Linked DNA regions of Homo sapiens. The protein of the gene in region 1 purifies or fractionates together with the protein of each later gene. This does not show direct contact. Each region holds a gene or a part of one and is shown on either strand. Other genes may lie near its edges. The genes, in order: SUGCT, ETFB and ARF4.

Evidence for each region.
Region 2: the proteins of SUGCT (region 1) and ETFB purify together in Homo sapiens (co-immunoprecipitation; one large-scale study listed by IntAct). This does not show direct contact.
Region 3: the proteins of SUGCT (region 1) and ARF4 purify together in Homo sapiens (co-immunoprecipitation; one large-scale study listed by IntAct). This does not show direct contact.

What each region holds. Positions count from the first base shown.
Region 1 is NC_000007.14:40,141,361-40,145,018, reverse strand, and holds part of SUGCT (succinyl-CoA:glutarate CoA-transferase), read right to left. Parts: intron 3,290-3,658; exon of another isoform or gene 3,189-3,289; coding exon of another isoform or gene 3,146-3,188; intron 1-3,145. UniProt on the Homo sapiens protein: Coenzyme A (CoA) transferase that reversibly catalyzes the transfer of a CoA moiety from a dicarboxyl-CoA to a dicarboxylate in a metabolite recycling process.
Region 2 is NC_000019.10:51,347,029-51,349,546, forward strand, and holds part of ETFB (electron transfer flavoprotein subunit beta), read right to left. Parts: intron 31-2,518; coding exon 1-30. UniProt on the Homo sapiens protein: Heterodimeric electron transfer flavoprotein that accepts electrons from several mitochondrial dehydrogenases, including acyl-CoA dehydrogenases, glutaryl-CoA and sarcosine dehydrogenase.
Region 3 is NC_000003.12:57,587,254-57,590,911, forward strand, and holds part of ARF4 (ADP-ribosylation factor 4), read right to left. Parts: intron 1-3,658.

The DNA.
Region 1 (3,658 bases):
TAACCTGCTCTTTAACAAAAATTATACAAGGTTAAAAAGAGTCTATAAAAATCTTACCTTATGGTCAGACATTAAAAATTGGATAAATGTGTCTACAAGTTTTATTAAAATTAAGTTTATCACTAATAGCACACTAATATAAAGGTGAAATTTAGCTTTTCTGGTATAAAAATCATACAGGAAGCATTGTCAAATATAAAATGGTATTTGGCTTTCTTTGGTCTAAAAACTAATAAAAATAGGTGCTAAAGGAAATTTCTCAGTAAGAAGACACCAAGGACTATAAAGTCCACTGCTGATGTCCCCACATTTAAAACAAAAGATCAATTTCTTAGAAATTGTATACTTGGTTTATCTTCCACTTTCCTTTCCCTCAAAACTAAAAGTCTTTTAGCACAGGTACCACCCCTAGAATTTCCGGTAAACCAGCAACAGCCTGAAGATCATGGTCTCATCAAAGGGTGGAAAGAAGGAAAACTCCAGCCACCCTGGGAAGGACCCTACCTTGTGCTGCTAACCACCAAGACTGCTGTTCTTACAGTGGGAAAGGGAATAGACTCATCACACCTGAGTCAAGAAAGCGCCGCCCCCTCCAGAGTCATGGGCCATAGTCCCAGGGGAAAACCCTACCAAACTAAAGCAAAGAAAAATTTCACTCTCTTTCATCTATTCTATTACTCTTTCTTCTTTCCTCGCTCTATTGCTGACCATCTAGTTATTAACATAACCAAGTCAATTTCTCTTCAAACTATTGCATTTGATGCTTGCCTTGTTATACCCTGTGGGGACTTGCCAAGTCAAAGACAGCTCTCTACTTCAGAAAAGTACCTCTCTCCCTCCTGACTCTCCTGAGACTAGACATTAGTGAATTGAGACCACTTAATCCAGGGAGATTTTGGTAAAGACCCCAGTGTCAACCAGGAGTCTTGCCCCCCAGTGTAGAGCTTTTATGCCGTAGTTTGTCCAACATTCTGTGGACCACTAAAGAGCAAGGATGGACTGCCCCAACCAGTTTTTGTAATTTCCTAAAACCATACATTCATTTTACTAGAGGGACAGCCAACCCCCAACTGGGGGTCAGCTAAACCAGTGCATTCCAATACAGGTTATTATCTCGAACCCTCAAACTTCTTCCCCTTTTCTAAGCCAGTTCCCTTCTTTAAGCCAGTTTTATGGTATGGGGGCTGAGGTTTCAGGGACAGACCCTATTGGATTCTTTGAAATGTGTTTATTTGATCCCCCAGTGCCTGCACCTTCCTCTAAGCCTTCTTCCAAAACCTCTCACAACTGAACAATTGCCACTCCTCCATCTAACGACAAGACCAAGATAGCTATCATACAAGTTAAAGACTTAAAACAAACTTCGGCAATTAAGACAAGATACCAAGATGCAAATGCCTGGTTGGAATGGATCAAATATTCCGTCTGCACGTTAAACAAAAGCAATTGTTATGCTTGTGCGCACCGCAGGCCAGAGGCCCAGACTGTCCCCTTTCCACTAGGGTGGTCATCCAGTCAACCAGGCATGGGCTGCATGGTAGCTCTTTTCCAGGATTCTACAGCCTAGAGTAACAAGTTGTGCCACACTCTCTCTCTGCTATATCCCAAAGTCCAGCATGCTGCGGGTCAGCCCCCAAGGGCCATCCAGCCTCCATTTTCCAAAATCAATTTTACCTCATGTCTCCAACGACCAAGGGAAAAATTTGGCATTCCTTGGAGACTTAACAGGATGCAGTGAAGTGTGGCACTTCCAAGAGCTGACCTATCAGTCTGCCCTTATTCATCCCTAAGCGGATGTATGGTGGGATTATGGAGGACCTTTACTGGACACTCTGCCAAATAATTAGAGCAGTATTTATGCTCTAGTCCAATCGGCTATCCCTTTTACTCTGGCCTTTCATCAAGCAGAGGAAGGAAAAACCAGACGTCATAAAGCAAGGGAAGCCTCTTATGGGTCTTTCGACTCTCACATCTATTTAAATGCAATTGGAGTCCCACAGGGAATACCAGATCAATTTAAACCCCAAAATCAAATAGCTACAGAATTTGAGTCAATATTTTGGTGGGTGACAATTAATAAAAATGTAGATTGGATAAACTACATCTATTACAACCAACAGCAATTTATTAACTATACTAGAGATGCTGTTAAAGGAATAGCTGAGTAATTAGGGGCTACAAGCCACATGGCTTGGGAAAATAGGATAGCCTTAGACATGATATTAGCAGAAAGAGGAGGAGTTTGTATCATGATTAAAACACAAATGTTGTACCTTCATCCCAAACAACACTGTCCCTGATGGAAGTATAACAAAGGCATTGCAAGGTCTGAGTGCTGTGTCCAATGAGTTAGCCAACAACTCAGGGGTAAATGACTCCTTTACAGGATGGCTAGAAAAGTGGTTCAGTAAGTGGAAAAGAATAATAGCCTCAGTTCTTACTTCCCTCGCAGCCATAATGGGTGTACTTACTCTTGTCAGGTGCTGTGTCACACCATGCATCCATGGGTTGGTGCAGAGGCTCATAAAAACAGCACTTACTAAAACCTCCCTTAACTATTCTCTGCCTTATGTAAAGAAGCTTCTTCTTTTGGAAAATCTGTAGAACAACTAAGCCAAGACATGTTAAAGAAGTTTGAAGAAAAAGAGCCGTAAGGAAATGCAAGAGGACAGAATGTTAGATATGAGTTCTAAATTTCTCTTCAAAGAATCAGTTTGTCAGTAGGTTCAATTCTTTGCTTTCTAGTTTTAAACTTAACTTCCTGGTAAAGCAACCTTTTTCAATTATCTGCTCTACCCTGACTCATTCCAATTACCTGCTCCACCCTGACTCATTCCGATTACCTGCTTCACCTTGACTCATTCTGATTACCTGCTCCACCATGACTAATTCCAGTTACCTATTCCACCCTAAGTCATTCCGATTACCTGCTCATTCTCCACCCTGACTCATTCAGATTTCCTGCTCTGCCATAACCATTTTTCCTGCCAAACCACTCACCCCGTCACTCTCTTTAAATTAGCCAATTGGAATTAGTTTAGCCTGTGTGGTCTAAACCTAGCCAATAGGGGAATGACACAGCAGCGGGGCCACGTGCATCAGGGATAAGAACCCCTTCCCCTCCCTTGTCCAGGTGTGTGCTCACCATTGTTCCATCTGTAAGGGCGCATTCTTCTATAGAAGTACATTGCCTTGCTGAGAATTAAAAAGAAAATTTTATATTCCAGTGCTATTTCTTTTGTGGCACCAAACCTTTATTTATAACATGGGCTACTGGAGTCAGACCCTGTCTCAAAAAAAAAAAAAAAGAATTCCCTCTCCCTCAATCTTCATATATTACCTGTAAATGTGATAAGAAGCACACTTTTTTTTTTTTTTTTTGAGATGGAGTCTTGCACTGTCTGTCGCCCAGGCTAGAGTGCAATGGCACAATCTCAGCTCACTGCAGCCTCCCACTCCTGGGTTCAAGCAATTCTCCTGCCTCAGCCTCCCAAGTAGCTGGGATTACAGGTGCCCACCACCACGCCTGACTATTTTTTTGTATTTTTACTAGAGACGGGGTTTCACTATGTTGGCCAGGCTGGTCTCGAACTCCTAACCTTGTGATCCATCTGCCTCAGCCTCCCAAAGTGCTGGGAGTACAACCATGAGCCACCGC
Region 2 (2,518 bases), on another chromosome or scaffold:
CTCCAGCGTCACCTGGGAGGCGAATGTGCCCTGGGGAGGGACAGTGTAGGAGGAGAGTGGGTGAGGCTAATTCAGGTCCGACCCGAGCAGTCTGCTTATGCCACTACTGAGTACACGCATGGACTAGTGAATGAATGAGGGAGCGAACAATGCAGGGTCCCATGAGGTTTAGAATCGAGCTTGTACACCTGGGAGAGGGTCTTTTTCCTTTCCCTGAGAGCCACGGTGTATGTCCTGATGTCCCATGTCCTGATGCTGCCAGTGAGGCCTCCCTGCCTTCCTGACAGGGAACATGTACTGAGTGCTGAGCCCTGTGCTAAGCAACTGATGTATCAAGTCATCGAATCCTCGCAGGAACTTTATGAGGTAAATGTTATTATCCCCACTTTACAGATGAGAGAAACTGAGGCAGCAAGATGCTGAGTTACACGCCCACTGCCACCCACAGCTGGTAAATCCAAAAGCTGACAATCTGGCTCCCAACGGCCCCCCGTGAGGCCCCTCCGCTGGGCAGACAACAGAACTGTGTGTGTCCACACCAGTCCTTAAACCACCTTCTGGGACCCCGTCCTCTAGCCAGGTCCCTTTGCCTCTCAGTCCTGAATCAACATTTCCTCCCCTGGTAACTGATGCCACCTACACTCCTCTTTGTCTAACGACCTTTGTCCCTGTCCACTTATTAACTGGACACATTTTTCAGGTCTTAGTGTGAACATCACCTCCCTTCATTCACAACCTCCTCCTAGTGCCCTTATGAACCTGCCCCTGGAGACACACTGTGAACACGACCAGTGAAGCACCAGCTTGGGTGGGCTCATATTCTGCCAGGGAAGACAACCAGTCACCAGGGAAAAACACACACACACAAATGAGATCATTTCCAATCAGAAGGAATAAGAAGAAAATAAGACACATGATATGAGAGCAAGAAGGGCGCACGTTGGAGAAGCTAGTCAGACAGTGGTAAATGCTTTGAAGATAAAACAGGATAATGGTTTTGAATGTGTTGTCCCATCCAGTAGCCACTGGCTGCGTGTGGCTGTCCAGCCAGTGCAGCTGAGGAATGAATTTTTACATTTTATTTAAATTTAAATACTGATAATTTGGCCAGGCGCAGTGGTTCATGCCTGTAATCCCAGCACTTTGAGGGGCCAAGGCGGGTGGATCACTTGAGGTCAGGAGTTCAAGACCAGCCTGGCCAACATGGCGAAACCCTGTCTCTACTAAAAATACAAAAATTATCCAGGTATGGTGATGCACGCTTGTAATCCGATCTACTCGGGAGGCTGAGGCAGGAGAATCGCTTAAATTCGGGAGGCGGAGGCTGCAGTGAGCCAAGATCGCGCCACTGCACTCCAGTCTGGGGACAGAACAAGACTCCACCTCAAAAAAATAAAAATAAATAAATACTGAGAATTCAAGACACATTATCATGATTGTGGTGATGATTTCATGGATGTAACACATATCAAAACTTAAATTTTGGAGGGCTGAGGTGAGCAGCTTGCTTGAGCCCAGGAGTTAAAGACCAGCTTGGGCAACATAGTGAGACCCCCATCTCTATCTAAATAAAAGAGTTTAAGAAAAGCAAACTTAACAAATTGTGCAACTTAGATATGTGCGGTTTATTGTAGGTAAATAACTCAACGAAGCTGTTTAAAAAAAAAACAAAAACAAACAAACAAACAAACAAAAAAACACAGATACCCAATGCAGTTACTGGAAATGCAGTTACTAGAAAACTTTTAAGTTTGTTTTGAACAACTTGGGTGTGTAAATCTATTTCAACTGTCATCTTTAGGAATGTGTTTCTCATAGAAATTTAGCACCTGAATTGAGATGTGCTGTAAATATAAAATACATGCTGAATTTTGAAGATTTAGTACAAAGAAAATCCAAAAAACGTAAAATACAGATGGTCCCTGACTTATGATGGTTTGAATTAAGATTTTTCAGTTTTCCGATGATGTGACAGTGATAAACATTCAGTAGAAACCATACTGCCAGTGTCCGTACAACCATTCCGTTTTTTTAGTTCCAGTACAGTATTTGATAAATTACATGGGATATTTAGCACTTTATTATAAAATGTGCTTTATGTTAGATTATTTTACCCCACTGTAGGCTAACGTTAAGTGTTGTGACATGTTTAAGGTAGGCTGGGCTCAGCTATGATATTTGGTAGATTAAGAATATTAAATGCATTCTCTCAGTTATAATATTTTCAATTTATGATGGATTTATCAGGACGTAACCCCATTGCTTGTAGAGCATATGTATCTTAATATTTTTATGTTGATTACATGTTAAAATAATATTTTAGATATAATGGGGTGAAATAAAATATAATTTTGTCTGTTTCTTTTTACTTTTTTATGTAGCTGTGAAAAATTTTAAATTTGTCTATGTGCCTTGCTTCTTTTTTTTTTTTTCTTTTGAGACAGGGTTTCCCTCTTTCACCTAGGCTGGAGTACAGTGGTATGATCACAGCTCACTGCAGTCTTGACCTCCTGAACTC
Region 3 (3,658 bases), on another chromosome or scaffold:
TGTTGCAGTGAGCCGAGATCGTGCCATTGCACTACAGCCTGGACAACAAGAGCGGAACTCAGTCTCAAAAAAAAAAAAAAAAAAAAAAAGTAAATCCAAAAATACTGACAAAGAAAAGAATTGAAGAAATCCAAGACAAATCATGACTATATCATTTTAAATTATACAAAAGCATGTAGGTAATCCAAGTTTTCTTTTAATAGGTTTTATATGTGCTTGTATGAATACTGTATGAATAATTATTTTCCTTGCTCCTCTACTGATAGGAATTTTTTTTTACCCAAAAATCATGTATTACTTTTATGAAAAGAGAAAAAAAATTGTCCAAGCAGATTTTTTTTAATTAAAATGTTGGGCTGTTTACATTTCCTGATGTATCTTTTTGAAGACGACTGCTTGAGGGCTTTAAATATATAATATTTTACATACTCATTTTACTTTTTTAAAAAGGGAAGTGTTTACAAAATCATGCAACCATTTCTAGGTCACCCCAGAATTCAAGGGGAAAAAATAATGCGCCCATAATGACTTTTAAGTATCCACAAATTATTTTCTAAATATAAATTACAAGACAACAGTTTAATGGCTCACAGCAACACAGAATGTATCTTATGCAGTTGTATCAAAAATAACAATGCTGTATAAATGCAAATTAAGAGTTTTTGAAAAAGGTATTTATAAGCTTTAATGCACGAATTAAACATATACAGTCATCACTTAAAACTTATAGTTCTTTACTCAAAAACATATTGGTCCAACAATTTTGAGCCACTTCAGTCATTTCTTATGTATTTCCTTAATGTTGCAATATTTGGCAATGAAATTTCTCCACAAAATGAAAACTATTACCAATTTTCAACTAGCCAAGATAAGACTAATCTGTATAGCCCAGCAATGGTCTCCCTCCCCTCCGTGTCCAGAAACAAGCAACTGTATTTAAAGATGTACTGGAATACTTGTTCTCCTTAACTAGACCTGCACTTTGACCAAAGTGTTACTATAGCAGGAAAACTACCTCAGAAATCTTTGCTGGCCAGGCAGTCACTCACACCTGTAATCCTAGCACTTTGGGAGGCTGAGGCAGGCGGATCGCTTGAGCCCAGGAGTTTGAAACCAGCCTGGTCAACATAGCGAGATCCATCTTTAAAGAAGAAAAAGTAAATTAGCTGGGAAGCTGTGCATGGTGGCTCACACCTGTAATCCCAGCATGTTGGGAGGCTGAGGCAGGTGGATGACCTGAGCTCAGGAGTTTGTGACCAGCCTGGACAACATGGCAAAACCCTGTCACTACAAAAAATACAAAAATTAGCCAGGTGTGAGTGGGGCACAGTGGCTCACACCTGTAATCCCAGCACTTTGGGAAGCCAAGGCGGGTGGATCACCTGAAGTCAGGAGTCAGAGACCAGCCTGACCAACATGGAGAAAGCCCGTCTCTACTCACACCTGTAATCCCAGCATGTTGGGAGGCTGAGGCAGGTGGATGACCTGAGCTCAGGAGTTTGTGACCAGCCTGGACAACATGGCAAAACCCTGTCACTACAAAAAATACAAAAATTAGCCAGGTGTGAGTGAGGCACAGTGGCTCACACCTGTAATCCCAGCACTTTGGGAAGCCAAGGCAGGTGGATCACCTGAAGTCAGGAATTAGAGACCAGCCTGACCAACATGGAGAAAGCCCGTCTCTACTAAAAATACAAAATTAGCTGGGTGTAGTGGCACATGCCTGTAATCCCAGCTACTCGGGAGGCTGAGGCAGGAGAATTGCTTGAACCTGAGAGGCGGAGGTCGCAGTGAGCTGAGATCGCGCCATTACACTCCAACCTGGGCAACAGGAGCAAAACTCCGTCTCAAAAAAAAAAAAAAATTAGCCGGTTGTGATGGCACATGCCTGTAGTCCCAGCTACTGGGTGAGGCTGAGATGGGAGGATCACTTGACCCCAGGAGGTCAAGGCTGCAGTGAGCTGTGATCGCACCACTGTGCTTCAGCCTGGGCAACAGAATTGAGACCCTGTCTCAAAACAAACAAAAATTAGGCAGGGTGGTGCCCATCTATATTCCCAGCTACGTGGGAGGCTGAGGCAGGAGGATCCCTTGAGCCCAGGGGATCAAGGCTGCAGCGAGCCATGATCACACCACTGCAATTCAGCGTAAGCAACAGAGCAAGATCCTGTCTCAAACAAACAAGGCCGGGCCCCGTGGCTCACACCTGTAATCCCAGCACTTTGGGAGGCTGAAGTGGGTGGATCACGAGGTCAGCAGTTCGCGACCAGCCTGGCCAACGTGGTGAAACCCAGTCTCTACTAAAAATACAAAAATTAGCTAGGCGTGGTGGCTGGCGCCTGTAAACCCAGCTACTTGGGAGGCTGAGGCAGGAGAATCGCTTGAACCCGGGAGGTGGAGGTTACAGTGAGCCCATACCGCGCCACGGCACTCCAGCCTGGGCAACAAAGCGAGACTCCGTCTCAAAAAAACAAACAAAAAACCCAAAAAAACAAACCTTTGCCCATAATTATGGCAGCAAGAAATACTTACATTTTAAATTTAAAAAGTTAGATCCAGCCGGGCACGGTGGCTCACACCTGAAATCCCAGCACTTTAGGAGGCCGAGGAGGGTGGATCATGAGGCCAGGAGTTTGAAACCAGCCTGGCCAACATGGTGAAACCCCATCTCTACTAAAAATACAAAAATTAGCCAGGCATGGTGGCGGGCGCCTGTAATCCCAGCTACTCGGGAGGCTGAGGCAGGAGAATTGCTTGAACCCGGGAGGTGGAGGCGCAGTGAGTCGAGATCATGCCACTGCACTCCAGCCTGGGCAACAGACCAAGACTCTGTCTCAATAAATAAATAAATAAATAAATAAATAAATAAATAAATAAATAAAACAAAAAACAAAAAAAGAACATCTATAAAAAACCTACAGCTAGTATCATAATTAGTGATGAAAAATTGAGGCCGGGTGCAGTGGCTCACACCTGTAATCCCAGCACTTTGGGAGGCTGAGGTGGATGGATCATGAGGTCAGGAGTTTGAGACCAGCCTGGCCAAGATGGTGAAACCCTGTCTCTACTAAAAAATACAAAAATTAGCCGGGCGCAGTGGCGGGTGCCTGTAATCCCAGCTACTTGGGAGGCTGAGGCAGGAGAATCGCTTGAACCCGGGAGGCGGAGTCTGTAGTGAGCCGAGATTGCGCCACTGCACTCTAGCCTAGGCAACAAAGCAAGACTCCGTCTCAAAAAAAGAAAAAAGTTAGATCCAATGATCTCAACTTTGAGGGAGAAAAAAATATTGCAGAAAGGAGTAAGACTGGAAAGACAAAAGAGTATTTTCAGATGGATAAAAAGATTTTTCATGTTTTCCTTTATCTTTCAAATTATCTACAAGTTTGAAATATACCTTCATAATTATAAGTGTGTGTGTGTACATATATATACATTTGTTTTTTGAGACAGGGTCTCGATCTGTCACCCAGCCTGGAGTGCAGTGGTGCAAACATGGCTCACTGTAGCCTCAAACTCCTGGGCTCCAGCAATCCTCCCACCTCAGCCTCCCTAGTAGCTGGGTCTACAGGGGCACGCCACCATGCCCAGCTAATTTTTAAAATTTTTTTGTAGAGATGAGGTCTTGCCATGGTATGGTGCCCAGGCTGCGTAATAGTTT